Linked DNA regions of Homo sapiens: region 1 is linked to region 2. The links come from fine-mapping of genetic effects on gene expression. A gene starts in region 2. The other region holds a variant in brackets. All regions are shown on one strand. Distances are between the middles of the regions.

Region 1 (2,901 bases), 29 kb after region 2:
CCCGCCTCGTCTTCCTAAAGTGCTGGGATTACAGGCATGAGCCACTGTGCCCAGGTGTATGTTTTATAGATGGGATTTCACCATGTTGCCCAGGCTGGCTACATGCTTTTTAAAATGTACATGTTCTCTCTTGACAATAGTGCTAAAAAGTATTATTCCCATTTCCAGATGGTTCAGAGAGGTTGTGGTTAAAGGAACTTGCCTAAAGTCACAGAATTCGTTTGCAGTTTAAACCCAGTTCAATAAAATGCCAAAGCTTGTGCTTACTATTCCTCAAAGGGATAATGCATGATAATATACAATATACTTTTTTCTCCCAATAATTTTGAAAGATTAGTAAAACAATAGCTCAGGCATTTTCTCTCCCCAACATCCTGCCTTTAAACCAATGAGGGGCCCTAAGTGGCGGCTCACGCCTGTAATCCCAGCACTTTGGGAGGCCGAGGGAGATGGATCACCTGAGATCAGGAGTTCGAGACCAGCCTGGCCAACATGGTGAAACCCTGTCTCTACTAAAAATACAAAAATTAGCCAGGGGTGGTGGTGCACTCCTGTAGTCCCACCTACTCAGGAGGCTGAGGCACAAGAATCACTTGAACAAGGGAGGCGGAGGTTGCAGTGGGCCAAGATCGTAGCACTGCACTACAGCCTGGGCGATAGAGTGAGAATCTGCCTCAAAACAACAATAACAAACAACAACAACAGCAAAACCAATGAGGGAGTAGGTTGATAAAGGGTAAATGGGCTGGGTGTGGTGGCTCACACCTGTAATCCCAGCACTGTGGGAGGCCGAGGTGGGAGGATCACTTGAGCCTGGGAGTTTGACACCAGCCTGGACAACATAGCATGACTCCCTCTCTACAAAAATGTTTTTAAAAAATTAGCCAGGCTTGGTGGTGCATGCCTGTAGTCCCAGCTACTCAGGAGACTGAGGCAAGAAGATCACTTGAGCCCAGGAGTTCGAGGCTGCAGTGAGCTATGATTGCAGCACTGCACTCCAGCCTGGGTGACAGAATGAGATCCTGTTTCCAAGAAAAGAAAAGAAAAGGTGAAACATCAAAAAAGAGGCAGAACTAGGACTCAAACATCTTCTGCTTCCAAGTCTAATTCAAATTTCATTTCATTGATGGGCATGGTGGCTCACGCCTGTAATCCCAGCACTTTGGGAGGCCCAAGTGGGTGGATCACCTGAGGTCAGGAGTTTGAGACCAACCTGGACAAACCAACCTCTACTAAAAATACAAAAATTAGCCAGGTATGGTGGCAGGCACCTGTAATCTCAGCTACTCAGGAGGCTGAGGCAAGAGAATCACTTGAACCTGGGAGGCAGAGGTTGCAGTGAGCTGAGATGGCCCCATTGCACTCCAGGCTGGGTGACAGAGCAAGACTCATCTCAAAAAAAAATTTTTTTTTTCATTTTATCATATCGTGCTTACCCCACCAAGTCTACTTTCTCCCTCTTCCTCTCAGTCTCTTCTCTTGGCTCTTTTTTTTT[C/T]TTCCTGCCTGATAACCATACCCAACCACATCCCAGCCATTCTTTTTTTTTTTTTTGAGACAAAGTGTCACTCTGTTGCCCAAGCTGGAGTGCAGTGGCACGATCTTGGCTCACGCAACCTCCAACTCCCGGCTTCAAGGCCTCTTGAGTAGCTGAGACTACAGGCATGCACCACCATGCCCGGCTAATTTTTGTATTTTTAGTAGAGATGGGGTTTCACTATGTTGGCCAGGCTGGTCTTGAACTCCTGACCTTGTGATCCGCCTGCCTCGGCCTCCCAAAGTGCTAGGATTACAGACATGAGCCACCAAGCCCGGCCTCATCCCAGCCATTCTTTAGGAACTCAGACATATCTTTTTTTCTCCTAGCATGATGCCCACCCCAAGGTACTTACACGTCTTCAACAACACCTTCCGGACAGCTTCGTGGTATCTTGTGTGGCTATTCTGGTGCACGGAATAATTCCCATCTTTTGAGATAATGGGGGGAAGCCTAGTAGGCTCTGGTTCCTTCTGGTCTGAAATTAGAGTAGACTCGTTCTGAGTACTTGGCAAATGACTATTTGATTCTCTGATTCCCTGGTCTCCATGCTAACCAGATGCATAGCAGGGATCTCTCCTAGCCACTCACATCCAATTTTCAGGACCTCAGGAATCCAATCACCATGGCTGTGACAGAGGGGAGGGAGAGAGAACACAGTGATCACAAGACCTCCCTTACCACTCTCTTGCTTCTCCCTGACTCCTGGATTTTAAGAGGCCAACTTCTGGAATCAGGATATTGGACACATACTTAGGGTTAGTCCAAGTGAAAAAGGCCCTTATCTGGGTAGACATTCCTTTCCTGGGATTGGCATATTTGCAGAACTTCAAATGGTCTAATAGTGGAAGTCATGTTTGAGCTAAGTCTTGGAGGAAAAGAAGGAGGTAGGTTACAGTAGAATCAGGAAGAGCATTTCAGACAGCAGAATGACAAGTGTTTAGAAGCATTAGAAAGGCATCAGAGAGCTATTTGATTTGGAGCCTCGAGTGCTGGGTGAAGAGGAGAAGGACAGGAGATGGGGCTGGTAAGGTGGTGTATTATAGTGGCTACCTAGCATTCATTATGTTTGGGAATCACTCCCTATGAAGCAAAACCTGTATCTCACAATAGAGGCTGAATAGACTAGTTCTTCCTTATCCAACCTCTCTTTCAGCAAGGATATGGACAAAGAATTTTGGCTAGGCCAATCAAACACATCCGTTTCAGATTTTGAATCAAAGAAGGTTGCAAGGAAGCAGTGGCCATATAAAGTTATCCGCTAGTGACGGGAGGTGGCAGCAGTGAAGCTGCATCCTGTTTCCAGCAGCAGTATTCAGGGCCCAGCATCCTTGGGGCCAGTAGTGTCCACCACAGCATTGAATGTA
Region 2 (2,901 bases):
CAGGTACACGTGGCTGATAAATGTTGGAAACTGGCTTTCCCAACTCTTCTTTTCCTTGCCTGAAGCTCTGTCCTGGACTTAGGAATCCCAGTGGTGATTTGGAGTGGACAAGACTTGAGTCTTGAAGGACAGGACTGCAGGGAGGGCTGGTCCTGAGGAGGAAGCATCTTCAGATACCTAGGTCTTGGGATCTTGGGTGGGGAATAGGCTGCTTGGGGAAGGGCTGAATTGGAAGGAGGAGCTAGAGGTCTGACTGAGGGAATGGAGAGGGGGCCTCAAAAGGAAGCCAGGCAGGCTGCCTTCTTCCCAGCTCCAGAATGGCACCCCCTCTAAAGTCACACTCACCTACGTACATCCTGGAGTGAAACTCCTTCTCCTTTCTGCTTCCACCATTACTCTAATCCTCAAAGGGTTAACCAGCTTTCACACGATTTTCCCATCTCCCAGGTAACTTGGGCAGCTGCTCCGTGCTGGAAATAACTAAAGACCCAGTTTCTCAGTTCGTGCACTTAGCAATGCACCCCAGTAGCCCCTCCAACCCCCAGCAGAGAAGCACAGCCCTTTGGGTAAAAGATGCCTGGGGGTGAGGCTGCAAGTTGGCAGGTGCGGGGGAGGGGCTCCCAGAGAGTAGGGCGGGGGGTTGTGGGGGCGGCAGGGAGAGTGCCCCTTCCCTGGGTCCCTCCACTGGGCCCCGAGGTTCGCCTCGGGGCCGCTGCCCCAGAGACTGGGGGGAAGAGGAAAGAAGTGGTGTGCGGGCAAGCAGGCCGCACACACCTGGCGCCTTGTGGAATGAGAGCTTAATTAATTATTAAACTGAGTTCCCGCGGGAGGGCGCAGGGCCGTGACAGGCAGGGCGGGAATGGCTAGGTGGGGGCTGGGGCTGGGGCAGGGGCAGGGAGGAATTGGGGATGAAGAGTGGGCGCGGGGCGCCGGCCCAACCCCTGGGACCCTGACAGGAAGGAAGGCGACCCTCGGTGGGCGGGGCGGGGGATGTAGCCGTGAGGGGTGGGTTTGCGGGCGCGCTCGGGGACCCCCGGGGTGAGGGCGGGAGAGGAATGCCGGAGGAGGCGGCCGGGGTGAAGGGAAGGGGACCGGGCTGCGAGGTCCCCTCCCCGCGGGGTCTTGATCCCAGAACAGTAGCTGCTTGTCTTCCCAGGACTGGGGGAGGAAGCGGCCGGAGGAGAGGAGGGGGCGCGCGGAGGGAGGGGTCCCATTATTTGGCCTCCTCCGCCCCTACCCCGCTGCTAGGAAGGGGAGTGGGCAACTCGGCCCCCACTTCTGGGGAGGGGGAGGGGGATGCCCAGACAAAAGGAGCTTGTGCCTTTAAGGCGGGGAGTCCGGGAGCCAGCGGGGAGGGGACTTCTGGATCCGGGGTAGAGGGCGGCTGCGCTGGACAGCTCGGGAGGGGGCGAGGGCCGGGCGGACGGCGGACGGCGGACGGCGGGCGGGACGGCCAGGACGCGCGGGCTCGGAGGACCGCGGGACGGCCGGCCGGCCGGCCGGAGCCCGCGGGGGCGGCGGGGCGGGGGCCCAGGGCAGGCGCGGAGCCGGGCCGGCAGGTGAGCGCGCTGAGGGCTAGGGGAAGTGGCCGCTCGGGCTCCCGGTGCGCCAGGATTGGAACGCACCCGAGCGGCTCTCGACAAGAGTTTGTGGGTGGGGGCGCCGAAGCCTTGGACGGGTCGTCTCGGCAGTGTTGCCCGAGGGAGTTGGGGTTGGCAAAGGGAAGTCATGGAGGCAGTGGGATCGAGGACTCCTAGGTCCGGCGCTCGCCACCCCCGTCGCCCGCCGCCTGCCTCCCTCCACGGGGCGAGTTCCAGGCTGGCCCGGAGGCCAGGAGGATCTGGCACGTACTGGGGGAGGGGCTGGCCTGAGTTTTTTGCTGCGGGGCTGTGGGGTGTCTCCGAGTTTGGGGGAGATTCCATTTAGGGGAGAGGAACCGGCCTGGGCAGAGGGAGGGATGCCCTCTGTCTGCGGGAGTCCCTCTCCTTCCCCTCACCCAAAACCTTGGGAATGAAAGGGGTGGGGTCGGCTCCCCACATCCCCCAAGGCCTGCCGCAGGGTGGGCAGGGGAGCTGACTTTATTCAAAGCAGACTCTGGGGCTCGACTGAAAGGCTAGAGGTGGAATCAGGCGTGGGAGCCTCTTTGCCCATATCCTCTCCTTACCAGATTACCCCTGTGAGCTGGAGGGACCTGGTGGGGGTTGCATAGTAAAGGGTGATGTGGGAGCCCTCTGTAATCTTTAGGGAGAGTGAGGACTGGGGATGGGAGAAGGCGGCAGCGGGCACTGGACCGACAGATACAGGCCCTGGGTAGGCTCCTCTACATCTGGAAAGGCCCAGAATTGAAGAATTGAGGCCCATGTCCGAGTATGGTGGGTGGTGCTGGCACTGCTGGGCCCCGCCTGGGCAGTGCCTCTTACCATGAACTTTCTGAAGTCGTTTTTAATCCCCTGGAGCCTCCTTTTGCCAAGGAGGGCAGGGGCAGATGGGCCCTGGGGATGGGATAGACAGGAGGTGGCCAGGAAGGCTTGGCAAGGCAGTGGGCAGAGCCATCCTTAGGGCTGGGCCTTGGCCTTGGCTGGTTCCAAACTCTGGTCTCAGCCTGATCAGGGTTTGGGAGGGACTTGAGGTCTGGGAGGCACTGAGCCTGGGCCTGCCAGGCTGAATGGGACATGGCTGTGGCTGTGGGAGCCGGTGGTATGAAGAACAGCAGATCTGTGAGAGTGCAAATGGACCAACACTCAGGGGAGGAGAAGGTAGAGGCACAAGGCTTAGGAGCCTGACTCTGGGGAGGAGGGAGGTGGTCTGTGCTCCCAGGGCTCATAGTGATGGGTTGCTGGACAAAGTGGGTTGGGGGACCATATAGAGAAATTTTGTGGCTTGGAACAGTGCTCTACCCTG

What was found.
Region 1: its variant is fine-mapped to the expression of ADCY6 in whole blood (TOPMed, PIP above 0.99).

What each region holds. Positions count from the first base shown.
Region 1 is chr12:48,758,320-48,761,220 of GRCh38, reverse strand. It overlaps SPMIP11 (sperm microtubule inner protein 11), which reads right to left. Exons shown (of 4, transcript NM_001351123.2): 2 at 1,890-2,012. Among named protein-coding and RNA genes, the nearest start is that of MIR4701, 12 kb to the left of the region's middle. The variant C/T (reference allele first, on the strand shown) is at 1,496.
Region 2 is chr12:48,787,564-48,790,464 of GRCh38, reverse strand. ADCY6 (adenylate cyclase 6) reads left to right here and starts at 1,376. Exons shown (of 22, transcript NM_015270.5): 1 at 1,376-1,559. It overlaps ADCY6-DT (ADCY6 divergent transcript), which reads right to left and starts at 1,318. Exons shown (of 3, transcript NR_110019.1): 1 at 1,238-1,318; 2 at 346-480; 3 at 1-152. RefSeq lists an enhancer at 2,429-2,901.